3 separate regions of the Homo sapiens genome follow, and all the other regions are linked to region 3. Evidence: fine-mapped expression QTL. A gene starts in region 3. Each other region holds a variant in brackets. All regions are shown on one strand. Distances are between the middles of the regions.

Region 1 (10,283 bases), 38 kb after region 3:
AGACTTAGCTACTTGGGAGGCTGCAGTAGGAGGATCCCTTGAGCCCATGAGGTCAAGGTTATAGTGAGCTATAATCTTACCACTGCACACCAGCCTGGGTGACAGACCAACACCGTGTCTCTCTAAAAAAAAACACAATAATTAGGCCACGGGCGGTGGCTCACCGCTGTGATCCCCAGCACTTTGGGAGGCTGAGGCTGGCGCATCACGAGGTCAAGAGATAGAGAGTATCGCTTGAACTCGAGGAGAGGTGGAGGTTGCAGTGAGCCAAGATCGCACCACTGTACTCCAGCCTGGGTGACAGAGACAGACTCTGCCTCAAAAAAAAAAAAAAAAAAAAAAAAAAAGCCAAAAATATAATTGTTGGGTCTTGATCTTTTTTTTTTTTTTTTTTTTAATTTATTTTTTTATTGATAATTCTTGGGTGTTTCTCACAGAGGGGGATTTGGCAGGGTCATGGGACAATAGTGGAGGGAAGGTCAGCAGATAAACAAGTGAACAAAGGTCTCTGGTTTTCCTAGGCAGAGGACCCTGCGGCCTTCCGCAGTGTTTGTGTCCCTGATTACTTGAGATTAGGGAGTGGTGATGACTCTTAACGAGCATGCTGCCTTCAAGCATCTGTTTAACAAAGCACATCTTGCACCGCCCTTAATCCATTTAACCCTGAGTGGACACAGCACATGTTTCAGAGAGCACAGGGTTGGGGGTAAGGTCACAGATCAACAGGATCCCAAGGCAGAGGAATTTTTCTTAGTGCAGAACAAAATGAAAAGTCTCCCATGTCTACTTCTTTCTACACAGACACGGCAACCATCCGATTTCTCAATCTTTTCCCCACCTTTCCCGCCTTTCTATTCCACAAAGCCGCCATTGTCATCCTGGCCCGTTCTCAATGAGCTGTTGGGCACACCTCCCAGACGGGGTGGTGGCCGGGCAGAGGGGCTCCTCACTTCCCAGTAGGCGCGGCCGGGCAGAGGCGCCCCTCACCTCCCGGACGGGGCGGCTGGCCGGGCAGGGGGGCTGACCCCCCCCACCTCCCTCCCGGACGGGGCGGCTGGCCGGGCGGGGGGCTGACACCCCCACCTCCCTCCCGGACGGGGCGGCTGGCCGGGCAGAGGGGCTCCTCACTTCCCAGTAGGGGCAGCCGGGCAGAGGCGCCCCTCACCTCCCGGACGGGGCGGCTGGCCGGGCAGGGGGGCCGACCCCCCCACCTCCCTCCCGGACGGGGCGGCTGGCCGGGCGGGGGGCCGACCCCCCCACCTCCCTCCCGGACGGGGCGGCTGGCCGGGCGGGGGGCCGACCCCCCCACCTCCCTCCCGGACGGGGCGGCTGGCCGGGCAGAGGGGCTCCTCACTTCCCAGTAGGGGCGGCCGGGCAGAGGCGCCCCTCACCTCCCAGACGGGGCGGCTGGCTGGGCGGAGGGCTGACCCCCCCACCTCCCTCCCGGACGGGGCGGCTGGCCGGGCAGAGGGGCTCCTCACTTCCCAGTAGGGGCGGCTGGGCAGAGGCGCCCCTCACCTCCCAGACGGGGCGGCTGGCCGGGCAGAGGGCTGACCCCCCCACCTCCCTCCCGGACGGGGCGGCTGGCCAGGCGGGGGGCTGACCCCCCTACCTCCCTCCCGGACGGGGCGGCTGGCCGGGTGGGGGGGCTGACCCCCCCATCTCCCTCCCCGACGGGGTGGCTGGCCGGGCTGAGGGGCTCCTCACTTCCCAGTAGGGGCGGCCGGGCAGAGGCGCCCCTCACCTCCCGGACGGGGCGGCTGGCCGGGCGGGGGGCTGACCCCCCCACCTCCCTCCCGGACGGCACGGCTGGCCAGGCGGGGGGCTGACCCCCCCACCTCCCTCCCGGATGGCACGGCTGGCCGGGCGGGGGGGCTGACCCCCCACCTCCCTCCCGGATGGGGCGGCTGGCCGGGCGGGGGGCTGACCCCCCCCACCTCCCTCCCGGACGGGGTGGCTGCCGGGCGGAGACGCTCCTCACTTCCCAGATGGGGTGGCTGCCGGGCGGAGAGGCTCCTCACTTCTCAGACGGGGCAGCTGCCGGGCGGAGGGGCTCCTCACTTCTCAGACGGGGTGGTTGCCAGGCAGAGGGTCTCCTCACTTCTCAGACGGGGCGGCCGGGCAGAGACGCTCCTCACCTCCCAGACGGGGTCTCGGCCGGGCAGAGGCGCTCCTCACATCCCAGATGGGGCGGCGGGGCAGAGGCGCTCCCCACATCTCAGACGATGGGCGGCCGGGCAGAGACGCTCCCCACTCCTAGATGTGATGGCGGCTGGGAAGAGGCGCTCCTCACTTCCTAGATGGGATGGCGGCCGGGCGGAGACGCTCCTCACTTTCCAGACTGGGCAGCCAGGCAGAGGGGCTCCTCACATCCCAGACGATGGGCGGCCAGGCAGAGACACTCCTCACTTCCCAGACGGGGTGGCAGCCGGGCAGAGGCTGCAATCTCGGCACTTTGGGAGGCCAAGGCAGGCGGCTGCTCCTTGCCCTCGGGCCCCGCGGGGCCCGTCCGCTCCTCCAGCCGCTGCCTCCCGGGCGGCGCTCGCCGGCGCGGCGGCCTTGATCTTTTTTTTTTTCCAAGACGGAGTCTCACTCTGTTGCCCTGGCTGGAGTGCAGTGGCATGATCTTGGCTCATTGCAACCTCCGCCTCCCGGGTTGAAGTGATTCTCCTGCCTCAGCCTCCTGAGTAGCTGGGATTACAGGCGCCCGCCTCCATGCCTGGCTAATTTTTGTATTTTTAGTAGAGATGTGGTTTTACCACGTTGGCCAGGCTGGTCTCCAACTCCTGACTTCAAGTGATCTGCCTGCCTTGGCCTCCCAAAGTGCTGGGATTACAGGTGTGAGCCACTGTGTCTGGCCATAATTGTTGGGTATTGATCTTGTACGTTGCAACCTTACTGAATTTATTAGTTCTAGGAGCTTTTTAGTGAAATCCTTAGGATTTTCTCTATGTAAGATCCTGGTGGTTTTTTCTTTTTTCAGATAGGGTCTCACTACCTAATGGCATGGCTAGATTACACGGTAGACATACTGTTAACTTTTCAAAGAAACTAGCAAACTGTTTTCCAAAGTGGTTGTGACATTTTACATTTCCATCAGATGTGTATTTGACCCTGAATTTTTAAAATTGATCTGATCTCTTCCCCTTGATAGGAAAATCTGAATGTTTCCAGTACCCGGAAGTGTGCCATGTCCTAAAGCCTCGTATATACAAAACAGCATTTAATAAAACCTGAGAGGTACTCTGGGAATATAAAGGAAGCATACTGCCGTTTCTTTTTTGAATGGAAGCAGTGGTCAGGAAAGGGCATACCAAGGGTATGTATAAACTCTTGTTAAGCCTAGCTGCTCACCTAAATCTTGGAAGACTTATGTTTACAAAGAATGAATCTATGACAATGAGAAAAAATTTTATTTATGACGATCTTGAGCAGTATAAAACTCAGAAGCTCCACTGAGGTGAAGGAAACATGGACATGATACTAAGCAAAGCCTAGTCTTTTCCATAAAATGAATAAGAAGTACATTTGGTGGAGTTTGAGACCAGCCTGGGCAACACAGTGAGACCCTGTCTCTAAAAGCATTAAAGCATTAATCCTCGCATTTCGATAGGGCTATGTAGCTTTTAAGTAAGCAATGTTAGAATGAGTTGTAGAGTTTTATTTTTGTGAATATAGTGAGTGACAGATGGCAATTACATGAGGATATTTGAACGAAGGTACATAAGCCTAAACAATTTCACCTAGGTAAAATATTGATGTCATAACCAAACTATATGGCCCCGTTTCATAAAGGTTACTATATTCTATAGAGAGTGAAGAGGTGGCCTTTCTATCCCAGCTTACCCTATTCTTGTTATTGTTCAAATTCTCCTGAAGCTTGCATAACTAGCTGCCATCAGGTAAATGCTATTGGCTAGCAGAAGACTGCAGTTCTGTTAATATTAGAACCAGCAGGGGGAACTTGGGAACTTGACATTAAAAATCTAGAAACAGAATTTTAGGATGGGTCTCGTTAGAAACCTGAATTGTTAATGGACTTAAGTAAAAACCATCCCAAAGAATTTGAGCTTTAAGGTGATAACGTCTTTTCAGAGATCATAGCACATGAAGAACCCATGGACACTACACAGACTATGAACAGTTAGCAGAAAAAGATCTCGTGACTAAAGTGGGGATGACAGCAAAAAAAAAAAATTTACAAAAGGAAAAAAGTTGAGAATACAGGAATATTTACAAGATGTTAAAAAATTATTAATCTTCAGCCAAAATGAGGCCCCTTCGCATTCCCAAAACCTTTGCTTTCTTCTCCTTTCGTTCTTGCTCGCGTTTCTTCCGTTGCTCTTCCCTGAGAGGGATAGGTCACACATTAAGCTCTAGGGAGGCTCCAAAACAGATACTTTAAAGCAACTATTGTTGGACTAACACCCAAACTTCCAAGCAATGACATCCAGCATACTTGTGTAAAACAGACTCTTAGAGGGCACTGTGCTCTGCCTAGTGTTTCTAACACCTGTTCGTCATTGTTGTGTTAAAGGGTTAGAAACTGGTATTTTCCTTTTGTTAACTCAGCACTCTAAAATCATGCATGGAGGCCGGGGC[G/A]CGATGGCTCATGCCTGAAATCCCAGCACGTTAGGAGGCCAAGGCAGGCAGATCACTTGAGGTCAGGAGTTCGAGACCAGCCTGGCCAAAATGGTGAAACCCCGTCTCTACTAAAAATACAAAAAAGGTAGCCAGGTGTGGTGGTGCATGCCTATAATCACAGCTACTGGGGAGGCTGAGGCAGGAGAATCCCTTGAACCCGGGAGGCGGAGGTTGCAGTGAGCCGAGATCACGCCACTGCACTCCAGACTGGGCGACAGAATGAGACTGTCTCAAAACAAACAAACAAAAATAAATAATAAAATCATGCATGGAATTGGAGTCAGGAGACACCTTGCTGATTGAATCCAACTCTTGTTATTTTACAGTTTGCTTTAGGCCAGATGCAGTGGCTCACACCTATAATCCCAGCATTTTGGGAGGCCAAGGTGGGAGGATCCCTTGTGCCCAGGAGTTCAAGGCCAAAGTAAGCTATGATCATGCCATTGTACTCCAGTCTGGGTGACAAAAAGTAAGACCCTGTCTCTAAGAAAAAAAAAAAAATTTGTTTTAAATGAGAAATGTCTACACCTAGAAATCAAAGTTGACCAGGTGTGGTAGCTCACGCCTGTAATCCCAGCACTTTGGGAGGCCAAGGTGGGTGGATCACCTGAGATCAGCAGTTTGAGACCAGCTTGGCCAAGATGGTAAAACCCCGTCTCTACTAAAAATACAAAAATTAGCTGCACGCGGGGGCGGGAACCTGTAATCCCAGCTACTCGGGAGGCTGAGGCAGCAGTATCACTTGAACCTGGGAGGCAGAGGTTGCAGTGAGCCAAGATCGCACCACCACACTCTAGCCTGGGCATCAGAGCGAGACTCCATCTCAAAAAAAAAAAAAAAAAAAAAAAAAAACCAAGATAAGTTAATATAATCTTGGGCTTTTTCTTTTTTTTTTTTGGTTTGTCTAATCCTCTGAAAGTAGAGCATAATGGCTAACTCAGTAGATCCTGGTTCTAGTTCTATTCCTTTCACTAAACTATGTGATTTTGAGCTTGACCTTTGACTTTGATTTCTTTTTTCTTTTTTGAGACGGAGTTTTGCTCTTGTTGCCCAGGCTGTAGTGCAATGGTGCAATTTCAGCTCGCCACAACCTCCGCCTCCCGGGTTCAAGTGATTCTGCTGCCTCAGCCTCCCGAGTAGCTGGGATTACAGGTATGTGCCACCACGCCCGGCTAATTTTGTATTTTTAGTAGAGATGGGGTTTCTCCATGTCTTCAACTCCTGACATCGTGATCCACCCGCCTTGGCCTCCCAGAGTACTGGGATTACAGGCGTGAGCCACCTTGCCTGGCCAACTTAATAACGGTGAGCAAAGGCCCTGGTGGCAGTCGTGTATAGCCATGAGTCAACTGACAGGTAACCCTGTGTCACGAGGGTCCAAGCAGGGAATCTGGGCCCAACCATGACTTGCTGCAACCCAGGATGAGCTCTGGCTTTAACTTGGTTTTCATGCTGAAGGAAGCCTCTAAGGACCGTCCTGGGTTTTTCCTCTTTATAGGGCCTTGACGCCTTGTAAGCCTGGTTTTCTTAGGAGTGAGGAATTTATGTCTATCTGGATATGTAGGTGCCCTGGGCTGCTGGGCATTGGTATCTGGAGAGATACCCACATGCCCTGTGTTTAGGCAGATGAGTCATGCAAGAGCAGTGCTCTGAATCTGGGTCTTCTTCTGAATCACCTGCAGAGCCTTGGAAACAATGCAGGTGCTTGGGCCTCACCCCAAATCTGCTGATTTGGAGTCCATTACACTGGAACCTAGGCAGATGTACTCAGAAAGTTATATACACGATACCACTTTTTTTTTTTTTTGAGACGGAGTCTCACTCTGTCGCCCAGGCTGGAGTGCAGTGGCGTGATCTCGGCTCACTGTAAGCTCTGCCTCCCAGGTTCCTGCCTCAGTCTCCCGAGTAGCTGGGACTACAGGCGCCCGCCACCACGCCCGGCTAATTTTTTGTATTTTTAGTAGAGATGGGGTTTCAATGCGTTAGCCAGGATGGTCTCGATCTGACCTCGTGATCTGCCCCCCTCGGCCTCCCAAAGTGCTGGGATTACAGGCGTGAGCCACCGTGCCTGGCCCATGATACCACTTTTTTTTTTTTTGAGACGGCGCCTGGCTCTGTCACGCAGGCTAGAGTGCAGTGGCGCGATCTCGGCTCACTGCAAGCTCTGCCTCCTGGGTTCACGCCATTCTCCTGCCTCAGCCTCCCGAGTAGCTGGAACTACAGGCGCCCGCCACCATGCCCAGCTAATTTTTTGTATTTTTAGTAGAGACGGGGTTTCACCGTGTTAGCCAGGATGGTTTCGATCTCCTGACCTCGTGTTCCGCCCACCTCGGCCTCCCAAAGTGCTGGGATTACAGGCGTGAGCCACCGCACACGGCCATAATACCACTTCTAACCTCCTCTTAAAACACCACTATTACTGAGCCCCTATCCCTCAGAGGTGCTGCTTTTGAAATTAAAATAATTATAAAGCTGGATAATTATGTACTTACTTTGTCTGGAGATGGGGTTGTTTGTAAGTTTTCTTGTAGAAGTTAATTCTGTTGACATGTTGATTTAGATAATTATTTTCTTTAGATTGCCCCCATGGTTTTAGCTTTCCTAGTTTAGGACAGAGACAAAGAATTTTAAAAAGATTGTTTGATTTATATTCCCAACTTCATTCTCTTCATCTGTGGGGTTACCTGCTATCAACATTTATACTTTTTTTTTCTTTGAGACAGAATCTCACTCTGTCGCTCAGTTTGGAGTGCAGTGGTGTGATCTGATCTCAGCTCACAGCAACCTCCGCCTCCTGGGCTCAAGTGATCCTCCCAATTTAGACTCATGAGTAGCTGGGACTACATGCACATGCCACCATGCCCGGGTAATTTTTGTATTTTTTAGTAGAGACGGGGTTTCATCATGTTGCCCATGCTGGTCTTGAGCTCCTGTTCTCAAGCAATCTGCCTGCCTTGGCCTCCCAAAGTGCTGGGATTACAGGCATGAGCCACTGTGTCCAACCAATTTGCAATTTTACAAAAAGAACTGGGACCAAATTTCTTGAAGTTTATGTGTTGCTTTTTTTTTTAATTTAAATTTAATTATTATTATTTTTTAAATTTTTTAGACAGAGTCTCGTTCTGTCGCCCAGGCTGGAGTGCAGTGGTGTGGTCTCGGCTCACTGCAAGCTTCACCTCCTGGGTTCACACCATTCTCCCACCTCAGCCTCCCGAGTAGTTGAGACTACAGGCGCCCGCCACCATGCCCAGCTAATTTTGTTTTTGTATTTTTGGTAGAGACGGGGTTTCAATGTGTTAGCCAGGATGGTCTCGATCTCCTGAACTCATGATCCGCCTGCCTTGGCCTCCCAAAGTGCTGGGATTACAGGCGTGAGCCACCGCGCCCAGCCTGTTTTTGAGGCGTGGTCTCACTATGTCACCCAGGCTGGAGTGTAGTGGTGCAATCTCGGCTCACTGCAACCTCTGCCTCCTAGGTTCAAGCGATTGTCCTGCCTCAGCCTCCCAAGTAGCTGGGATTACAGGCGCCGCCACCACGCCAGGCTAATTTTCTTATTTTTTTTCAGAAGAGACGGGGTTTCACCATGTTGGCCAGGCTGATCTCGAACTCCTGACCTCAAGTGATCTGCCCACCTCAGCCTCCCAAAAGTGCTGGGATTACAGGCCAGAGCCACTGCGCCCGGCCGCAGAATTTGTTTATTCTTAAGTTTTTATTTTTTATTTTTATTTTTTAGATGGAGTTTCACTCTTGTTGCCCAGGCTGGAGTGCAGTGGCACGGTCTCGGCTCACTGCAACCTCCACCTAACAGGTTCAAGTGATTCTCCTGTCTCAGCATCCTAAGTATCTGGGATTACAGGTGCCTGCCACCACGCCTGGCTAATTTTTGTATGTTTAGTAGGTGTGAGCCACTGCGTCCCACCAATCTTAAGTATTTTACAGGCCCTGTAGCTCAAAACACTCCCACATACCTTTGTGTGGTTCATAGTTGAGGGGACGAGACAAACTTGCTTTAAGATCAAACACTGGTTTCTTATTGGAGACTGGAGTCTGCGTTGCCTCAGTTGTCAACTTGAATGGGGTAATAACTAAAAACACACCGAAAAAACCCAAGAGCTTAATTAGAAACAAAGACCTGGTAAAGTGTTTATCAAAGTGTTACTTCTCAATCTTAAAAATACACGTTATAGGCTGGGCATGGTGGCCCACACCTGTAATCCCAGCACTTTGGGAGGCCGAGGTGGGCGGATCACGAGGTCAGGAGATCAAGACCATCCTGACCAACATGGTGAAACCCTGTCTCCACAAAAATACAAAAAATTATCTAGAGGTGTGGTGGCTCACACCTGTAATCTCAGCACTTTGAGAGGCCGAGTCGGGTGGATCACCTGAGGTCAGGAGTTCAAGACCAGCCTGACCAACACGGAGAAACCCCATCTCTACTAAAAATACAAAATTAGCCAGGGTGGTGGCACATGCCTGTAATCCCAGCTACTCGGGAGGCTGAGGCAGGAGAATTGCTTGAACCCGGAAGGCGGAGGTTGTGGTGAGCTGAGATTGCGCCATTGCACTCCAGCTTGGGCAACAAGAGCGAAACTTGGTTTAAAAAAAAAAAAAAAAAAAAATTAGCTGGGCGTGGTGGTGCATGCCTGTAGTCCCATGCCGAGTAGGCTGAGGCAGGGGAATTGCTTAAATCCGGGAAGCAGAGGTTGCAGTGAGCCAACATCGTGCCACTGCACTCCAGCCTGGTGACAGAGCAAGACTCCATCTCAGAGAGGGAAAAAAAAAAAATTAGCTAGGTGTGGTGGCACGTGCCTGTAATCCCAGCTACTCGGGAGGCTGAGGTAGGAGAATCACTTGAACCCGGGAGGTGGAGCTTGCAGTGAGCCAAGATTGCGCCATTGCACTCCAGCCTGGGCAACAGGGTGGGACTCCATCTCAAAAAAACAAAAGAAACAAACAAAGAAAAAAAAGAAGCTGGGTGCAGTGGCTCACGACTGTAATCCCAGCACTTTGGGAGGCCGAGGCAGGTGGATCATGAGGTCAAGAGAGCGAGACCATCCTGGCCAACATAGTGAAACTCCGTGTCTACTAAAATACAAAAATTAGCTAGGCGTGGCAGCGTGTGCCCAAAATCCCAGCTACTCAGGAAGCTGAGGCAGGAGAATCCCTTGAACCAGGGAGTCGGAGGTTGCAGCGAGCCGAGATTGCACCACAGCACTCCAGCCTGGCGACAGTGAGACTGTGTCTCAAAAAAAGAAAAAAGTTATAGCTTGAATGTTTGTATCTCCTGCGATCCCAAATTCATATTGAAATCCTAACTGTCAATATGACTGGTGTAAGGAAGTAGGGCCTTTGGGAGGTAAATAGGTCATGAATGGGATTCAGGGCCTTATATAGGGACCCCATAGAATTTTCTCTAGCTCTCTTTCTGCCACATGAGCATACAACAAGAAGTTGGTAGTCTGCTACCTGGAAAACAGCCCTCACCAGAATCATGCTAGTGCCCTGATCTGCCCTCATCCAGCCTCCAGAACTATGAGAAAGAAATTACCGCTGTTTATAAGATACAGTCTTTGGTGCTTTGTTATATAATAGCAGCCGCAAAGGACTAAGACAATCTACATGAATAGTCTGAAATA
Region 2 (10,283 bases), 510 kb after region 3:
CACTGTGAGGGAAGGAGTACCAGGTCCTCCTGAGAACAAAGCTGGCATGACCCTGGGATGTGGGGAGGAGCTGCGCCGGGCTGGCCTAGCTACAGGCTGAGTGAGGACGGTGGCCAGCCTATGGCCACTGAGTGGGACTGTAATTAAACTGCGGGTAGGTTTCTGGTCACACTCCTGTTGGCCGAGAACAAAGGCCCCAGCATCACTGCCCAGGGGGAAAGAGAAGGAGCAGAAGGAGGGAGCGGGGGTAACCCAGAACCTGCTATTGGGTTGGGCAACTGGCCTCCAGCTGGGTCAGGGAACTCTGTGGGCACCTCGGGCAGCCACCGGCTAGGTGGGCATCTCTGAGGGGCTCCAATCTGAAATGGAGGGGCCAGTTCTGCTGGCAGAGGTGGAGGGGGCCAGCCAGAAAGTGACTGAAGGGTTACAGGGCCATGGAGCAGGAGTTCTCCGCCCGCCCTGGCCATGCACAAGGATCACCTGAGCAGCTCCTGTGGGCACCCTGATAGAACTGTTCTGAGATGAGGCCTTGGAGGCACTGGTATTTTCCAAAAGCTCCCCAGTGACGCAGTGTGCAGCCAGGGTTGAGGGATACTGCTATCTGGAAGCACAGGGCCTCCTGTTCCTCCTCCTGTCCCTTCGCTGAGGCCCACAGTGCTCAGAGGCCACGCCCACTGGACCCAACAGCCCAGTGTCCCGGCACCCACGACTAGGCAGCTGGGATTGGAGCCCCTCCATCATAAGCCCCCCCAGTGCAAGCTCCTGGAGCCGCTGCCCACTGCCACAGTCTCCTGGTAGAGGTGGAGGGGACCAGAGTCTCTGGGCCTTTGGAGAGGTCCTCCTCTTCTTGACCCCCCTCCCTTAGTGGAAAGTTCCTCAGGGAAGCAGCTGTGGGCAGATAAGGCAAGATGCCCCAGGGGCAGGGGGCGGGGGTTGCCTATGGGGCACCCGTGGCCTCATCCACCACCTCCGAAGGGACCCTACTGTCTCACTCTCCAGGCCCCCAGGCCTGGGGTAGCACCTGGGAGAGCAGGCAGGGGACTGGGAGGGAAAAAAGGTAGACCCGGAGCACCTGAGCCAATGGGGCCTGGCCCCAGGCAGGGACGTGCTCTGGTCCTGAATCATTTCCCGGATATAGCTCAACAGCCCAGACTTCAAGGTTTTGGGGGGAAATCTTTTTTCCAAGTTCCTCGATCTGTCATCCCCTTCCCCCCTGGCCGGATAGGACTGGACCAGAGTCCTCTCTCAGCTCCCCCTCAGCCTCCCAGCTTGGGCCGTCTCCACTGATCTCTCCACTGGACATTGTTTCCCGCCTCAGGAAGTCTCTGATGCCCTGCGCTAGATTTTGTTTTCCTTGTTATCGGGACAACTAATATTTTTTCCTGTGCAGAAAAAAAAAAAAAAAGAGATTTTCCCAAGCAGATTACAGCTGTCAGTGATGGGGGGAGGGGGCTGGAGGTTGAGCCCTTCCCCCTCCCCCACTGCCACCCTCAGAGGGCCGAGCTTTTGAATGAAGGAGGAAGCCCTGGACCCAGATCCAGCCAGGCGAGCTGGAGCCAGGGGCAACTCTGGCCTTGGCAGGAAAGTCAGGCCTCTCTCCTCTACCGTCAGGGACCCTGCTCCTGCGAAGATTGTTATCCACGGGCCCACATGTCCAAGGATAGGGAGAGGGTCCTGGGCTTGCCTTCTCTCTAGTGGGGCAGGAAGGGCAGGCTGCCCCCCAGCTGCAGGAGAGAGGTCCCATGGCCCTTGGGAACTGATTCTTCCCAGGCCAGAATTCTGAACGGTCAAGCAGCCCTGTGGGACCAGGATGGCAGAACATGAGTAAAGACACCTAGGAAGGGTGGGAGCACACGCGAGACCCAGCTCCACTAGATGGTGTGACTTTGGGCAATTCCCCAAACCTCTCTGTGCCGTGGGCGCCCCCTGCCCGCCACCATGGACAAATTGATGCCTGCCTCACCTACCTAAACAGCCATGTGGTGAGGATGTAGACGAGAGAAAGATTCTAATTCAATGTCAGGGGTTCTTATGACTCCGTCAGAAGGGTTAATGCAGGTGTCTCAGTACCTATGTGACACAAGTGGGGCCTCCAAGACGAGCAGACCAGAAAGCAGAGGCCATCACCGGGCAGGTTCTGTTAGAATGACACACTCTGGGCCAGCACGTGCATGCACACATACACATGTGCACACACACACTCTCTCTCACACACACTCTCACACACACACACAGTCACACTCAGTCACACACAGTCACACACTCACAGTCGCACACACACTCACACAGTCACACACACTCACAGTCACACACACACACTCACGCAGTCACACACAGTCGTACACTCACACACAGTCACACTCACACAGTCGCGCACACACACACACAGTCACACACAGTCACACACACACAGTCGCACACACAGTCGCACACTCACAGTCACACACACACGCACACACACTCACACACACACACACAGGCTGGGTGTTCTTCCTCGATAAACTCTCACTTTCTACGTTGGGTGCTGCGGTCCTAGGATGGGACAGGCTGCCTGGGCCTTTGGGGTAGGAACTGGCAGCACAACCACCACAGCAACAGGGCCTTGCCTAAGATGACCAAGTTTCTTTTCAAGTTAACAACAACAAATAGAACGGCTTCAGATGTGGGTTACTCGATTGTGGTTGGCAATGGATTAAGAAAATCATTTGCCCCCTCAGGCCCTGGATCCTCTTGTAGGGTGATGGTCTGCTCCGAGAGGCTCTCCTGCCTTCCTCTATCTACACAGTGGGCTCCACAGTGGCCTATATGGGGCCAGTGAGGCATTTGTTGGGGGGATGGGAGGAAATATGATTTCTATTTTGATTTATTTTTTAATTAAAAAACAATTTGGGAGGCTGAGGCAGGTGGAACACCTGAGTTCAGAAGTTTGAGACCAGCCTGCCCAGCCTGGCCAACATGGTGAAACCCAGTCTCTACTAAAAATACAAAAAATTAGCTGGGTGTGGTGGCGGGCGCCTGTAATCTCAGCTACTCGGGAGGCTGAGGCAGGAGAAACGCTTGAACCTGGGAGGCGGAGGTTGCAGTGAGCTGAGACTGCCCCACTGCACTCCAGCCTGGGCAACAAGAGCAAAATTCCATCTCCAAAAAATATATAAATAAATAAAATATTTAATAATAAATAATGTTTTAAAATAAATAATATTTAATATGTGTTTTGACTGTAGTGTATAATCTATGCATAAATATTCACAATCAAAAAAGTTTGGGAGGCCAGACACAGTGGCTCGCGCCTGTAATCTCAGCAATTTGGGAGGCCAAGGCAGGAGAATCTCTTGAGGCCCCAAGTTCAAGACCAGCCTGGGCAACATAGTGAGACCCCCATCTGTTTAAAAAAAAAAAAAAAGTCTGGAGACCACCATCCTGGAAGATCAGTGAGGGCTTTACATCCTATTGGAAGCCAGTTTCAGGCTGGGTGCTGGGGTAGGGGAAGGGAGTGTGGAGGAGGGGCTGGTGCGCTCCAGGTACAGGACCACGCAGCAGTCTGGATATTCCTGGCCACCACTGGTCCCCACGGCCTCCTTCTCCCTGTTCCCCCTTTAGGCCTGCGTAAGTCTCAGGGGTTCTAGGACCCTAGCTGCCAAGCTCCCTGCAAGGGAGAGAGTGGTCCTGGGTGACCGACACACTCCCCTGCCCCTCAGGCTGGCTGATGTGTGGCTCAGTGAGGCTAGGGTCCTTGTAGCTGCCCTGCATTCCATGTCATCCCCAGGAGAAAAGTCCCTGGCGGGAGGCGGCCCTCTGCCGGGAGGCTGTTTCCTCAAGCAGCCAAGGTAAGAAGTGGGGGATTTCCAGCCCAACCCGTGGGGCTGACTTCAGTACTGGGGGCTCCTCTCCTTTCTCATGCAGCCAGGCTGGGGTGAGCACACAAACGCTGGAGTTAGACCTGGTTGTGGGCAAGAGCATGTGGGGGCAGTGGAGTTAGCTAGGCCTGAAAGCCTGCAGCTGCCACGCCCTGCTCAAGAGAACCCCAGGGCTGTACCTGCAACCAACAGAGACCCAGCCCTGGAAGACCCCAACAGGCATCTCAGGGAGGGGACAGGGGTCTGGAAATCCAGCACCATACTTACTCATGGGCTTGTGGGGAATGACTCAAATTGATGAATGCCCCTGCTTAACCCCAGGTTCTGCCCCAGGGCTGCTGGGCGGGCCTGGTGGTAAGCGAAATGGCAGGTCTAAATCTCATCTCACAAGGCAGCATTAATTAGCCAGCACTTCCAAGGATGCTGGAGAGTCAAGGGAGCCAAGTTGGACCCATCAGGAGCTGGGAGCCAGAAGCCCCACATCCCAGACCATCTTGCCCTGAAAGCTTGGCCCACAGGAAAGGGGAGCTATCCCATACAGCATTCCCTCTATCCCTGCACTGCGCTCCGCTGGGCAGGGAGGGTGGGTGCAATCCTGGAGGCCAAATGGAGGAAGAGGGAGGAAGCCATAGTGCCCTGGTGATGGTGGCACACATGGACGTCCCAGCTCAGGCCTGTGGAAGGGCTTAGGAAACAGACTTTTCCTCTGCTCTTATTGAGTCTCCTGTGCCTCAGATACGCTTGTGAATTTTCATTTCATTACCCAGCTCATATGTTTGCTGAGTACACATGTATGTGCAGGCCTGTGTGATTGAGACATGCCAGGTCAAGGAACAGGCAGGAATTTATGCAAGGTTGCTGAGCAGAAGGAGAGGACCT[G/A]AAAAGTGAAATAATAGTCCAGCCACCACCATTGTAGGCTAGCAATGTGTCAAGACCTGAGCCAGGGGTTTTACATGCATTATTACCAATCTGCCCAGCAGCCAACCCTCTGAGGGAGGTATTATTATCTCCATTTTATAAATCGATAAATTGAATGAAGCTTAGAGAAGTTAAGTGACCAGCCTGAGGTCATGCGGTGAGCAAATCTAGGCCAGGATTTGAACCCGGTCAGTCTAAGGCCAAGCCAGAGATGTCTCCACCCAACTCTCTTGGTGTGGTCCTCCTCCATTACGCCCCATCTGTTCCTTGTCTCTGAGGCCCTGGCTGCCCTGGTCTGAGGTAACAGTTCCCTCCCCTCCTCCTCTCCCCTCCCGGCCAGGCAAGGTGGAAACACAGAGTTTGTTTGAGGCCTTGTGGAGCCCGAGAAGCAGTGAGCAGACCTTCACACCAGTCCAGGCCGGGTTCAAAGAGGGTCTGGCTGGCCCTGGGTGTGGGGGGGATCAGCTAGGGCTGAGCTGGGGCAGCTGTTTACAGTAAACAGAAAGCTCTTGAGGAAGGAAGGAGGGGAGGGGCTGGGGTCGTCATGGAGACAGGGACGAGCAGACAGGCCTCAGCCTTGATCCACAATGACTGGTAACGCATCCTTGCCTTCCAGAGCAGAGGAGGCCCAGGGAAGGTTGGGACAAGTCAGCCGGAGCAGGAGAGGCAGGGGCAGACAGGTCTGGCCCGGGGCAGACTCGCTAAGAACACACTCCCACCTCTTTGTGCCTTTCTACTTATTATTAACAATCACAACGCCTGCTTCTTGAGTTCTCACAGTACGTCTGGTGCGAGGCCCTTGAGAATATGTTTTCTTATTTAATCCCAACAATAGCCAGGTGGTAGGTACGATAATAGTCTCTAATTTATAGATGAGGAAATTGAGGTTCAGAAAGGTTAAGCAATTTGTCAAGGTCAAACAGCTTGTAAGTGACATAGCAGAAATTCCAGATCAAAAACTCTTTCCACCAAGGCGGGTAGGAGATGAGCTAGCTGGTGAAACTCTGAGCCCCTCAGATGGTGGGGAAACTGAGTCCCTTAGGTGTTAAGGGGACTTTCCCAGGCTTCTGGTGTTAGTCAAAGAGATTGCCGGGAACAGAACCCATCTGTTCTAGCCCTAACCACTAGACCACACGGCTTCTCCATGGCTTCAGCTGGGAAGGTCCAAAGAGAAACTCCCTTTCTAGCCCCAGTGTGGAGTGTAGACTCTTCCCCAGCTAACACGGTTATCCCTGCGGAGGCCAGGCTGGGCCAGGGTGCAGTGGGGGATGCTGGGGGGTTTCTGCCCACACATATGGTTTCCAGATTCCAGGGGATGAAAAGGAGGCCCTTAGGGGCGGAAATGGGGGATGTGTGATGACAAATTTAGACTGATTGCTTAAAAAAAAAAAAAGAAGCCAAGAAACCCTATAAAATAAAAGCAGAAATTCCACTAGAAAACCAGAGGGAGTTATTTGATTGTGAAACTGAGTGCCACGAGGCGTGCATAGTTTAATGTGGAACAATATCTAGGGTTCTTCCAACTTTGACTGTTCAGAGGATGCCGGGGAGGGAAGGAGGCTCTGTCTGCTGTTCCTGCTTCACCTGCTGGGGCCTGGGACAGGGAGCTAGTCGGGAAGGACACCTGGGAGGATGTCTGGAGTCGGGGCACTTGCAAGCGTCCTGCCGGCTGTGGCCAAGGATCCACACTGGCTCACATGGAGAGCGGCCCAGTGGAGGCTCCAGCTGGTCCGCACTGAGAGCATGGGGAAGGATGAGCTGGAAGCTGGGGGTTTGGGGTATCTCTGAGTTCCAGCCTTAGAGGGAAAGACCAGGAACAAAAGGTAAAAGAGAGAACATCTGCCTGGTATTCTGGTCGGCAGCAGGCCCAAGGGGTCAAAGGTCAAGGGGAGGACAAGGGGGACTTCCTGAAGCTCCCGGGAGAGTGCCAGCCAGGCCGACTGTTGTGCAAGTTCTGGGCTGGCCTGCGAGGGCAGGCTGGCAGAGGAGTCATGCCTGATCAGCGGCCAGCATGGTGTCTGCCCAGCCCTCTTGGCCTGTCCTATGAGACTCCTGGAGCTGGAGTAGTGCCCTGTCTCCTTTCCTTCAGGGAACCAGGACCCCCATCCCAAGGAAGCACTCTTGTCCCACCTGTGGCCATATTCTACATGCCTGTGGGCTTCCTCTCATTCTCATCCTGAACCTCTTTTCCTTAGAATCGCCATTGTTCAAGAAACCAGAAAAACCTACTCAAGCAAGCTTCTTTCTTCCAATTCCACTCTGATATCTGAAGAAGTCAGAGGGCCTTGTGAGGGATGAGCTGGGACAGGTCTCAGGGTCCTACGCCTACAGAAAGGAGGTGCAGAGTAAAAGGGAAGAGGGGCAAGTGCCCAGGGCTGCTTGGGCGCCAGGCCCTGGGCTACCTTGACAGATGGGCGGCACCGCTCTCATTTCAGCCTCACAAGAGCCTTTCCAGGTCTGTAACAGTTATTCACATTTTACAGGAGAAGAAATTGAGTTTCCAAGGGCTTGATTAGCCTGATGCTGGTAATGGCAGAGCAGAGACTTGCACTTGCTCTTTACAGATTATGTCCTTGTTCCTCGGTTCAACCCATTTTGGCTGGAGATGGAAAATGAGTATAAAGAAGGACCTAGGATGGTGCCCTGCTCACGACCAGCATGGGAACACAGTTAATCAAGGCTGAATCTCACGGACAGGGGCAGGATCCAGGATGGAGCCTCCTGTTAGCTACCAATTTGTCTTCTGCAATTCAGCAGCTGTAAAGTCAGGAGGTGGGATCAGCAGCACAATGTCTTTCAAACTCGGTTCCTGGGCATCCTGGCATCTTATGGATATCGTGATAGGGGGCCGGGCACAGTGGCTCATGCCTGTAATCCGGACACCCTAGGAGGCTGAGGTGGGAGGACTGCTTGAAGTCAGGAGTTCAAGACCAGCCTTGGCAACCTAGCAAGACCCCCGTCACTACAAAAAATAGAAATAAAAATTAGCCAGGTGTGGTGTCTGTAGTCCTTGCTACTCAGGAGCCTGGGGTGGGAGGATCACTTGAGATCAGGAATTAAAGGCTGCAGTGAGCTATGATGGCGCCACTGCACTCCAGCCTAGGCAATAGAACAAGGTGTTGTTTCTATTAAAAAAAAAAAAAAAAAACAGAGAGAGAGACATTGAGATAGGAGTGGAGAACAGGCTGAGTGAACAGGAGTGTGGGTCCCTCCAGCCCAGTTTCCATCGGAGAATCTCAGCATACCAATTTCAAGTACTGGACATTCATGAATGTTTTTATTTGAACAAGGCTTCCACAGCACTTTATAGTCTCTATCTGAGGTCTCTGCAGCTCTGGCCTGCTGGGAGTTGTGAACGGTTTAGGTCCTGGCCTGGGAAGAGAAACCAGAGGACCTGGTAAAGGAAGTAGGGTTCACCTTCTAGCCCTGTGGAGATGCCGCGAGGGAACAGGTCAAGGGTCAGAGCTGGGAGATCATGCCATGGAGGGAAGGTGAGCTGCAGCCACCTGCCTCTGCACCTGGCAAACACAAACAGACCTTTGGCCACAGCAGCCTGGGAACCAGAAGCAGCAGCCACCTTCCGGGGGGCCAGACCAGTGCCCCTTTCCCTTTTCTCTGCCCAAGCTTATTCTCAGTGGACATGGGTTGCTGGCCACCAAACTAAGGCCGCGCAGCCTCTCCTGACCTCACGGTATGGTTTCTGACTGCTCAGTAAGGGCTGGTTCAAGGTGAAAGCTGAGCCACGGTAAAGCTGCTCAGGGAGAGGAAAGCACCCAATTACTGGGCATTCAGAGAGTGGGGCCAATCCCCTTGAAATGACAACCCTATTTTGTGACCCTTTTATTGGCCATCCTGGACCAAAGTTTGCCCCTCTGCCTCAGTTTTCCTTTTGGGAATCCAGGCATGAGAATGGTGGCCCTCTCCTGGTGGCTTCAGCACGTATGGCTCCCTGAATATCATCTCCATGCTCCAGGTGGAGGAGAAAGCTGAGGGCTCCAGCTGCCCAAGCACCAGAACTTTCTAGCATCCTCCTATCCCAGTGCCCGCCCCAGGCCTGCCTCTGACCACCATTCACCCTCAACCTGCTGCAGGGCCCAGCCTCACCCCACATAAGCAAAGCTGCCAGCAGCGTCCTTTGTGGTGCTGCTCCCGTGTGGCACTGCCTAGGGGCCCCACCATGGGGCAACAGATGGACCTATGGTCTCTCCAGAACAATGGTGGGGGAGGGGCCCTGGCATCGCCCGCCCCAAACAGGAAGCGCTGCATGAGCTTCAAAGGGCTGGCAGGGCCAAGGGGCTGAGTGGGGGAGCCAGTGCCAGGACTGGCGGCTGCCTGAAGAGATGCCTGCCAGCCTCGGGATGCCCAGCCTGGTGGTGGAGGTGGGGCTGTGGTGGCCAGGGCAGCTGGCTCTTGAGCAGAAGATGTCTGGCACCCTGAGGACAGCAGCCTGTAACCTGGGAGCAGGTTAAGGAAAGAGGGCATGGAGTTTGCTGTTTCCCGGTTCAACTGCCACTCGCCAGCGGGGCTGCAGGTTCTTTCCCAGGCCGCGGTTGGCCTGGCCCTCCGGCAAGTAAGCATGAGGGGCAGGGCTGGCACCAAGCCCGCCGCCCACTCCCTGCCTCCTGCTCCCAGCTGCTCCGCTCAGAGCCTTTTCCTCTCCACTTCCTGTTCACACAGGGGGGGGCGGGAAGTGGAGGGAGGAAGTTGGGGGGAGGCGTGTAGGGGGGACCCATTGAATAAAAGGAATTAACCGTTTCCCTCCTCTGACCTCTGGGAATTTCCGCCTGTGAAAGTGTCTCGAAGAATCAGTAGGGCTGGGGGAGTGGAGGGGAACTGCGCCCCCTCTTGGTCCCCTTCCCCCACCCGGTGGCGGTGGGGCCAGATAACTCCCTCTGGGCCCCTAACCTTTGTTTCCCTGGCGCCAGGGGGCAGCGCCAAGTGCGGCCTGGAGCCTGATGGCCTCGAGCCCCCTCCCAACCTTTGGGGTGGGTGCCAGGCACCAGCCTGCGACCCGAGCCTTTGGGGGAGGGGCAGGAACTAGAACTGGTGGTCTCGGGGGAATGAGCTCACATCCGAGCTGGCCACGCTGAGCCCTGTGCCCTCTCCAGGGCTGGTGCCCTTGGCCAGTCGGCCGCGGTGACAGGAGAAGGGAGGGAGAGGCCGGGCAGGCAGGGCCTGGGACTCTGGGCCGGCACACCCTCCGGCGGCCACACCCCCAGGAGCCAGGGTAGGGAGCGGTGGGCTCGGGAAGCCGGTAGACGGCGCCCCCTAGTGCCCACTGCAGACTCGGCGGGGCGGCCCCCAGGGCCCTCTCCAGGGCGGGCCTCAGGAAGCACCTGCTCCCCAGGACCAGTGGCCGCCCTGCGTCTCCCCCAGGTGGCTTCCTTGTTTACAGGCCTCCTGCCCTGGTCCCAGCGTCACTGCCTGTGGCCACTCCTTCTATTTCCAGTGACCGCTCCAGGAGTAGCTCATTCATCTTGGCCCCTGCCCACGCAGCTGCTCCCCCAC
Region 3 (10,283 bases):
AGAATTGTTTGAACCCGGGAGGCGGAGGCTGCAGGAGCCAAGATCGCGCCACTGCACTCCAGCCTGGGTGACAGAGCGAGACTCCGTCTCAAAAAAAAGAAAAAAGAAAATACTTAGGGGGGCCTATTCTCTCAAAGACAAATTTAATTATTGCTACTTCAAGTTAGATAAACAGAGAAAAACAGGACATGACAATATAATCTCCATTTTAAATAAGAAACCTATAAAATAAAGCATCCCAGTGTGCACATAGCTCAATTTTTAGTTTTTTAGAAAGGTAGAGTAAAATTTTTATAAATACGGAGTTGTACTGATTTGAATTGAGAACTCTGGTTCCTTTATTATCTTGAATGCTTTTCATTTTATAGGACTTACTGCATAAATATTATTCCATAAAGGGAGATGACATAGAGCCCAGAGGTTTGCCTCAAATTATTATTTCCCAATAGGCACCAACAGCAAGTATCTTGAAATTTAAAAATGTTGAAGAAAGGGTGTGGTCAAAATAAGGACAGAGTCACTATCAGGTCAAATGCTAAAAGAAAAGCTTTCAAACTCTCAAACTAGGTCTTAGTTTTAAAAACTTTCAAAGGTTAAAATAAGGCCAGGTGCTGGATCACCTGAGGCCAGGAGTTAGAGACCAGTCTGGCCAACATAGCGTCTCTACTGAAAATACAAAAAATTAGCCAGGTGTGGTGGCAGGCGCCTGTAATCTCAGCTACCCAGGAGGCTGAGGCAGGAGAATTGCTTGAACCCAGGAGGTGGAAGGTGCAGTGAGTCGAGATCGTGCTATTGTACTCCAGTCTGGGCGATAGAGTGAGACTCCATCTCAAAAATAAATAAATAAACAAACAAACAAATAAATAAATAAGGCCTGGTGTGGCAGCTCACACCTGTAATTCCAGCACTTTGGGAGGCCAAAGCCTGAGAATCACCCAAGCCCAGGAGTTTCAGACTAGCCTAGGCAATGTAGTGGGACCCCCATCTCTACAAATGATTTTAAAAATTAGCTGGGTGTGGTGGTGCACACCTGTAGTCCCAGCTACTTGAGAGGCTGAGGGGGAAGGATCACTGAGCTAGGGAGGTCAACGCTACAGCCGTGAGCTGTAATTGTGCCACTGCACTCCAGCCTGGGTGACAGGAGTGAAACCCTGCCTAAAAAAAAAAAAAAAAAGAACCAGTAGTTTTGCCATCTTAAAACCTCCCTGTCAAGTTCTTTTAGTTATACAAGTGCCTTTTTTTTTTTTTTCTTTGGGACAGGGTCTCACTCTGTTACCTGGGCTGAAGAGAAACGGTGGGACCACAAGTAACTGCAACTTCAACCTCCCAGGCTCAAGCAATCCTCCCACCCCAGACTCCCAAGTAGCTGAGACTAGAGGCACGCCACCATGCCCAGCTAATTTTTAAATTCTTTTTTTTTTTTTTTTAATACAGAGTTTCACTCTTGTTTCCCAGGCTGGAGTGCAATGGCACGATCTCGGCTCACCACAGCCTCCACCTCCTGGGTTCAAGTGATTCTCCTGCCTCAGCCTTCTGAGTAACTGGGATTACAGGCAAGCACCACCATGCCTGGCTAATTTTGTATTTTTAGTAGAGACGAGGTTTCTCCATGTTGGTCAGGCTGGTCTCAAACTCCCAACCTCAGGTGATCCGCCCACCTCGGCCTCCCAAAGTGCTGGGATTACAGGTATGAGCCACTGCACCTGGCCAATTTTTAAAGTCTTTGTACAGATGAGGTCTCACTTTGTTGCCTACGCTGATCTCAAACACCTGGGCTCAAGTGTTCCTCCCACTTTGGCCTCCCAAAGTGCTGAGATTACAGGGCATGAGCCACCATGCCCAGCCTATACATGTACGCTTAATTTGGAAGTACTATGGCAGACACAGGAAGCTATTTCTCTTCTAAATACTTATAGTGTGTTACTAAAAAGATTAACCTGCATATAGGCAGTGATCTTAATCACTAACATAAATCATAATTACTTGAGCTATACCTGTTACAAATGCAGAGTCCAGACCTCTATCCCCTGAGAGTCTGATTCAGTAGGTCTAGGATGGGAACTGCTGCACCCTCTAAGTCCCAACCTACATTTTAAATAAGCAACCCAGGTGGCTTCTGACACAGAGGTCTGCCCCTACCACCAGGAAAAACCAGCCTAGAAGGCCCATATATCTCACCTTCAGTAAGGAATAAATTGGAGGTAAAATTTTTGACATAATGGCTCAGATTCCCATCTGAAAAACCCAGGGACAAAAGGCCTCCTTACGAACTGCATTCCAATCCACACTAGATACTCAGTGATCTGTCATGGTTTGTTCCTTCCACAAGTACCATACGCTAGACAGCAAGTCTAATGTTATACCCCCAGTGAAGACTCAGAACCAGATGGAGCAGCACAAGGTATTTGGGGCAGGAAAGATCCAGAATGCATTAGGATTCCTAAAGACCCCCAAGCAGCACTGACAGTGAACTTGTGCTAAAGGTCTTTCGTGAAAATGTCTAGAGGGCAGAGATCTTCCTCTTTGATTATTCTGAGAGTCTGGCATAGTGCTGAACAGACAAACTGAAGGCATCAATACCCCTGTTAGGATGTGCAGGGAAAGGGAATTTTGATCTAGTTCCCATCTGATAACAAGAATGCAAATAAGAAGCTGAAGGGGAGGAAGTTAAATTTGTTGTTAAAATGTATTAGGTATTACACATTTTATGTTAATTTCCTTTTACAAATAGATATTTAGAATTGGATTTAAAATTGCAATTCCGGCCAAGCACGGTGGCTCATGCCTGTAATCCCAGCACTTTGGGAGGCCGAGGTGGGCATATCACTTGAGGTCAGGAGTTCGAAACCAGCCTGGCCAACATGGAGAAACCCTGTCTCCACTAAAAATACAAAAAATTAGCCAGGTGTGGTGACAGGCACCTGTAGTCCCAGCTACACGGGAGGCTGAAGCAGGAGAATCGCTTGAACCCAGTGGGCGGAGGTTGCAGTGAGTTGAGATTGTGCCACTGAACTCCAGCCCAGGCAACAGAACAAGACTCCGTCTCAAAAATAAATAAATAAATAAAGTGGCAATTCTCTGCAGTTCCCACTTTGAAAAAGCTTTTTGTGGATCAGGTGAAATATCTCTACCACGAAAAGAAGCACTCAACTTATTTTATTCATCAGAATTCTGTGGGAAACTACTAAGGACAATAATTTGCAGTTCAGTTCATTCATCACTTGAACAGATGTCTTGAGAGTGCTTTACCAAGAAATCCCCCCAAATAATCCTTTTAATGTATGTACCAATTTCCTCTAAACTATCCAGTGTACTTTATAAACACGAACTCTAGCACCATGAAAAATGACTGTGAAACATTATCATTTTGCAGTATGAAAAAAATTTAAAACTAACAGATTGAGTTGGTATAGTGGAAACAGTATAGGCTTTGTACTCATGCAGATCTGGGTTCAAATCCCAATGCTACCACTTACTAGTTGTGAGTTATTTAACTTTTTCAACCTCCATTTTCTTTATGTAAAGTAGAGGAAATAATTCCAAATTTACCATAATGTGAAAACTTGAAAATCTAAACAAAACAATTAAAGTGCCTACTCTAGGCACTATATAAATGGTAGCCAATGTTGTTATTGTCTGAAACATTCACATTTGTAGATGAAAAGACAGAAAAAAATAGATTCTACTCCTTCTAATTGCCAGTCTAAAATTATCTACCAATCAAACTTTTACAGTCGAAATTATACTTTTGATATTTTTGTAAACTTCAGGAGCCTTTCAATGAGAACATTTTCAATTCCTACCCCAAAACAAAGTTTCTATTCCTTAGATAGTCTTACACAGGCCCCATTACTTCTCCATCTCCCTACCACCATTTTCAAAGCAGTCTTCTTTCTACAGCACCTCCTCAATCCTTTTCTTCTTAAAAGTCCTCCCCTTGGCGGAGCTTGCAGTGAAGCCAAGATCGCACCACTGCACTCCAGCCTGGGCGACAGTGCGAGACTCCGTCTCAAAAAAAAATAAATAAATAAATAAAAAGTCCTCCCCTTTTATGCCTTAATACTTTCTTTTTCTTTCTTTTCTTTTTTTTTTTTTTTTTGTGATGGAGTTTCGCTCTTGTTGCCCAGGCTCACTGCAACCTCCGCCTCCCGGGTTCAAGAATTCTCCTGCCTCAGCCTCCCGAGTAGCTGGGATTACAGGCATGTGCCACCACGCCCCGCTAATTTTGTATTTTTAGTAGAGATGGGGTTTCTCCATGTTGGTCAGGCTGGTCTCGAACTCCCGACCTCAGATGAGCCTTGGCCTCCCAAAGTGCTGGGACTACAGGCGTGAGCCACCGCGCCCAGCCCCTAATACTTTCAAACTGAGACCTCTGGCTTCATATAAAAGACCCCCAAGAAGCCATTCATAGAAAAACTTTACAATTAGCAAATGCTTGCACTGCCATCAATTTTTACAAACACTTGATCTTTACAATAAACCAATTAGATACACAAGGCTGATGTTACATTTTCATTTTACATTTAAGACCAAAGATATATAGCTAGAAAATAGCATAAGCCCAGCCTAGAATTCAAATTTTCAGACTCCAAGTTCAATACTCTTTCTACTCAAAAGCTACTATCTCTTGCATATTCTTTCTTTACATCATTTGCTCATTAAACAGAAAGGAGACCATCTTTGTATCGCCTGGTATCACTAGAGCACTGCTACAAAGAGCAGATTCCTCCCTACAATGTTTTCTAGAGTATATAAACAGTTCAACCCCAAGACACTGAGGCCAAAAGTTACTTTCAGTGCTTCCTGCAGTCTTCAAGTAAGAAAGAATTCTGGGATGCTGCGTGAAAGGGCCAAGAGGAGGCCTGGGCTATGCACAGTCCCTCCATGTCGCCCTACATAGTTCTCTATTTCTTCCAGTATCTGCCCTCTTTCCTCCACCCAAGAGTGTTTTTTTGGGTCTGACACCTCAACAAGGGCCCTTCTCAAACACAAACGACCCTAGTCGCCAAATAAACTCGTGCCCACAGCTAAGTCATCCTTGGCAAGCATGGCAGAGGCTCCTAGGAACATTTACGAGTGTCCTTCCTCTGTCCACATCCCTTGTCCGAAAAACTTCCATCTTCCAGAGTCCGGATCTTCTTGGCCCTCGCCCCCAACTGCTCGACGCGCACCCTTGCACCTCCTCCAAAACCTCCCAGCCTCCCAGGTTGGCGGGCGATACTTCCTATCTCTCCCAGCCCGGATCTCCTGGACTACAGCCCGCCGCCCCGATCTGGCCCCGGAAGATCGCGGCCCCTTTCGCTACCCCCGAGCCCGAGGCCCAACGGCCCGGTCCCTGCCCCGCCTCCCCGCCCAAGGCGCCAAGTCCTCGGGGCTCCGTCTCCAGGCCCGGGCCGGTCTCCAAGGCCCCGCACACTCCAGGAAGACGGGAAAGGGGCTGTAGTGGTGCCCAGGGCACGGGGCGAGCTGGGCGCTCTGGTAGGAAGGCTCCAGGCCCGGCCGTCTCCGGCTCCCGCGGCCCCGACAGCCCTCTGGCTCCGCCGGCCCGCGCCTCCGCGGCCTGCCCTCACCTGATCCAGGTTCTCGTCGCTGCCGCTGTCCTCTGTGTCCGAGTCGATCACGACGCGGCCTTTCCGCTTCTTTACCATGGTGGTCCCCCGGCTCCCACGCCGGCCGCCGCCCGGACTCCCCTCTTGCCCGCCTGCCAGTGGGACCGCCACTGCCGCCGCCGCCGCCGCTGCTCGACCCACACAAAGGCGACCGCGCATGCGCGCTCCGCTCCGCCCCCCTGGCCCCGCCCCCTGCTCGCCGCACGCCGTTCGCAGGTCGCCGGGTGCCCCGCCCTGCCCCGCCCCCGACGCAGCGTGAGAGGCGGGGCCTTCCCCCGTCGCTGGTTCCCGGCAGAGAGTGGTGGTGGCTTTACCCGCGACTGCCCTGGAGTCCTTGGCTGTATCTCTGCTGCGGAGCCGAAGTTTGGTGGGCTCTCTTCCTATCGGGGGCTGGAGCCGCAAGGATCCAGGTTCTCTCTGAGGGGGCTCACGTGTCTACCTACTTTCAAGCTGTCCAACACTGATGGCGTGTACTTAAGGGGCCGACGGCCTGGAAGACATAAGTCGCCTGGACCACGCGGTGGACACCGGTTGGGGGCTGGAGACTGCCGACCCGGGCTGTGCGAATGACAGCTGAGCTGGGACCTGGAGAATGCATCTGAATTACCCAAAAGGAGAGTAGAGTGTTGCATGCAGAGAACAGCGTAGGCAAAATGGCCCGGCGATAATAAAGTTAGGTTCGGAGAACTGAAGTTAGTTATGGCCAGAGCAGAGATTGTGGGTGGGGATAGGCGACAGACCAGGCTGGAGAAGGACACGGCGACTGCCTCACTCAGATCCTAATAAGTAAGCTGAATTAGGGAGTTTGAACTTGAGTATTGAAAGATTTTAAACTGAAGAACCACATGATTTGATTTGTGTGTGGTTTTGTGTTTTAGTAGAGACGGGGCCTCCCTATATTGCCCAGGCTGGTCTCGAACCCCTGGGCCCAAGGGATCCTCCTGCCTTGGCCTCCCAAAGTGCTGGGATTACAGGCGTGAGCTACCGTGCCCAGCCTGATTTGTGGTGGTGTTTTTTTGTTTGTTTGTTTGTTTGTTCGTTTGTTTTGGAGACGGAGTCGCTCTTGTTGCCCGGCCTGGAGTGCAGTGGCAGCTCACTGCAACTCCGCTTCCCAGGTTCAAGCGATTCTCCTGCCTCAGCCTCCTGAGTAGCTGGGATTACAGGCTCCTGCCACCACGCCCGGCTAATTTTTTTTTTTTTTTTTTTTTTGAGACGGAGTTTCGTTCTTGTCGCCCAGGCTGGAGTGCAATGGCGCGATCTTGGCTCACTGCAACTTCTGCCGCCTGGGTTCAAGCGATTCTCCAGCCTCAACCTCCGGAATAGATGGCATTACAGACGCCCTTCACCACGCCCTGCTAATTTTTGTATTTTCAGTAGAGATGGGGTTTCAGCATGTTGGCCAGGCTGGTCTCAAACTCCTGGCCTCCGGTGATCCGCCCGCCTCAGCCTCCCAAAGTGCTGGGATTATAGGCATGAGCCACTGCACCCAGGCCTGATTTGTGTTTTTCAAAGATTACTCTGACCGCAGTATGGCGAATGGACTAAGGGCAGGGAGATCGCTTGGATTGTTGTTGTCTTCTTGGCAAGAGATGATGGTGTCCTGACCTAAGGACGAAGCTGTGGGAATGGAAAGAAGTGGATGGACTCTGGATAATTTGGAACGTAGAATCCCCAGGATTTGGGATAGGGGTAAGGGAAGGAGTGCTCCCAGATACCTATTGATGTTCAGATTCTAGCTTAGGAAGCTAGTGGCAGGTGAGCCCTTCATCAAAAAAATGAAATACAAGAGGAGAGAAGAAGGTTTTGGGAACTGGTGTGTATAGGAAATAAGTTTTTATACTTAAGTTTGAGGTCAGCTGATAAAAAGGTCAGCTCCAGAAGTTATTTCCTTTAGTGATTAGGAATATAAAGTAGGGGCCGGGCGTGGTGGCTCACACATGTAATCCCAGCACTTTGGGAAGCTGAAGAGGGCCGATCACCTGAGGGCAGGAGTTCAAGACCTGCCTGGCCAACATGGCAAAACCCCATCTCTACTAAAAATACAAAAATTAGGCCGGGCACAGTGGCTCACGCCTGTAATCCCAACTTTGGGAGGCTGAGGCAGGGGGATCACAAGGTCAGGAAATCGAGACCAGCCTGACCAACATGGTAAAACCCTGTCTCTACTAAAAATACAAAAATTAGCCGGGCATAGTGGCGTGTTCCTGTAATCCCAGCTACTTGGGAGGCTGAGGCAGGAGAATCACTTGAACCTGAAGGCGGAGGCTGCAGTGAGACGAAATCGTACCACTGCACTCCAGCCTGGCAACAGACGTGACTCTTTCTCAAAAATAATAATAATAATAATAATAATAATCTGGACCGGGTGCAGTGGCTCTTTCCTGTAACCCCAGCACTTTGGGAGGCTGAGGCAGGTGGATCACGAGGTCAGGAGCTCAAGACCAACTTGGCCAAGACAGTGAAACCCCGTTTCTACTAAAAATACAAAAATTAGTCAGACGTGGTGGTGGGCGCATGTATTCCCAGCTACTTGGGAGGCTGAGGCAGAGAATTGCTTGAACCTGGGAGGTGGAGGTTGCAGTGAGCTGAGATCGCGCCACTGCACTCCAGCCTGGGCAACAATAGCGAGCCTGTTCTCAAAAAAAAAAAAAGGAAAAAAGAAAATAATCGCACCACTGCACTTCAGCCTGGGTGACAAAGTGAGACCCTGTCTCAAAAAAATAAATAAATAAAACAACCTAAATAAAGTCCAACTACCTCTTTACCCTAGAAGAGTTTTCCTAAGATACAGCTCATAGACTTTTCTCCCCCGACATATCCTTGGAACCATGGCCAAGGTGACCCCGAATCACCAGCCCAGCTTCCGTATGTCTAGCCACCCTGAAGCCTGTGGTGCCCTTCTGGAGGACCCTCTTTAAATGTGTTAATACACAGTACTGCTAAAAAGGAAGCCATGACATGGTCAGTGGCCCTTGACTGGAATTAATAAAAGTATGTTCTTTGAGTGAAATCTGTAGATTTTGATCTTTCTGCAAGGGGTCTTCTAATGATTCACGTACTGAAGTTAGTCCGTATTGAGTCTAATCAATGTCTAAATTTAGTGAATAAACGTTGCTTTAAACTCCCTCTTGAGTCAGCTTCCCAGAGAACCCAACCAGTCAAAGTTTCCAATTAGTAAAATGAGGATAATGATAGTGTCTGTCTCTTTGGGTTCTTATAAGGTTTAAGTTTACAAAGCAGGCATGGAGGCACAGGTCTATGGTCCCAGTTACTTGGGAGGCTAAGGTAGGAGGATCGGTTGAGCCCAGGAGGTGGAATCCATCCTTGGCAACTTAGAGAAACCACGTCTCAAAAAAAATAGTAAGTTAGGCCAAGCCGAGTGTGGTGGCTCACGCCTGTAATCCCAGCACTTTGGGAGGCCGAGGCAGGCGGATTACCTGAGGTCAGGAGTTCAAGACCAGCCTGGCCGACATGGTGAAATCCCATCTCTACTAAAAATACAAAAAAAAAAAAATTAGCTGTGCATTGTGGCAGGCGCATGTAATCCCAGCTACCTGGGAGGCTGAGGCAGGAGAATCACTTGAACCCAGGAGGCGGAGTTGGAGTGAGCTGAGATCGCGCCATTGCACTCCAGCCTGGGCAACAAGAGTGAAATTCCATCTCAAAATTTAAAAAAATAATGATAATAATAAGTTAGGCCAGGCGGGGTGGCTCATGCCTGTAATCCTAGCACTTTGGGAGACCAAGGAGGGTGGATCACTTGAGGTCAGGAGTTCGAGACCAGCCTGGCTGATATGGTGAAACCCCGTCTCTACTAAAAATACAAAAATTCGCTGGGCGTGGTGGCACCCACCTGTAGTCCCAGCTACTCGGGAGGCTGAGGCAGGAGAATTGCTTGCACCTGGAAGGCGGAGGTTGCAGTGAGCTGAGATCACATCACTGCACTCCAGCCTGGGCAACAGAGCGAGACCTCATCTCAAAAAAAAAAAAAAAAAAATACTGTCCATTATCTAATCTTGGAATTTTTTTTTTTTTTTTGAAACAGAGTCTTGCACTGTCACCCAGGCTGGAGTGCAGTGGTATGATCATGGCTCACTGCAGCCTTAGACTCCTGGGCTCAAGCAATCCTCCCACCTCAGCCTGCCAAGTAGCTGGGACTAGAGGCATGTGCCAACACACCCTGCTAATTTTTTTATTTTTATTTTTTGTAGGGACAAGATCTCACTATGTTGCCCAAGCTGGTCTCCAATTCCTATCCTCAAGTGATCCTCCTGCCTCAGTTTCTTAAAAGTGTTGAGATTATAGCATGAGCCACCATATCCGGCCCAATCTTACAACTTGGTCCTCTTGATCAGGCACCCTCAGAATCCAGTCGTTTGCTACTCTCCCAGCTCCTGCCACCACCTGCTTGGCTAGTTCTTGCAGCTCTTTTGGCGTATAGTCCTTTTCCTCCTTTATTAGGCCCAATATGTCCCCCACTGGGTTATGTGGTGACTTAACCCTATATAAGTCTAGTGGCCAGGAGAGGGGTAAGAGCAGATTCTGAGGGGAAGGAGAAATCCTTCAGTCCTGCCAGGGACAAGCCTCTGCAGTGTCTAAAAGGAGGAGAGGAGGCTGGATGGAAGATCATTTCTGCAGGTTCAGAGGGTTCGGGAGTACCTGGGATTTCAAATT

What was found. PIP is the estimated chance that this variant, and not a neighbour inherited with it, causes the effect.
Region 1: its variant is fine-mapped to the expression of RTF1 in whole blood (TOPMed, PIP above 0.99).
Region 2: its variant is fine-mapped to the expression of RTF1 in whole blood (INTERVAL, PIP 0.99).

The regions. Positions count from the first base shown.
Region 1 is chr15:41,374,158-41,384,440 of GRCh38, reverse strand. It overlaps NUSAP1 (nucleolar and spindle associated protein 1), which reads right to left. Exons shown (of 11, transcript NM_016359.5): 9 at 8,613-8,729; 10 at 7,137-7,245; 11 at 3,395-4,348. The coding sequence ends at 4,255. Among named protein-coding and RNA genes, the nearest start is that of NDUFAF1, 23 kb to the left of the region's middle. RefSeq lists an enhancer at 344-882. The variant G/A (reference allele first, on the strand shown) is at 4,603.
Region 2 is chr15:40,906,283-40,916,565 of GRCh38, reverse strand. It overlaps LOC105370943 (a long non-coding RNA gene), which reads right to left and starts at 9,757. Exons shown (of 2, transcript NR_135836.1): 1 at 9,681-9,757; 2 at 7,215-7,737. RefSeq lists enhancers at 602-1,269, 8,782-8,911, 10,101-10,283 and silencers at 9,122-9,181, 9,832-10,171, 10,101-10,283. The variant G/A (reference allele first, on the strand shown) is at 4,737.
Region 3 is chr15:41,412,601-41,422,883 of GRCh38, reverse strand. It overlaps RTF1 (RTF1 homolog, Paf1/RNA polymerase II complex component), which reads right to left and starts at 5,789. Exons shown (of 18, transcript NM_015138.5): 1 at 5,571-5,789. The coding sequence starts at 5,768. RefSeq lists a silencer at 5,310-5,899 and an enhancer at 5,960-6,059.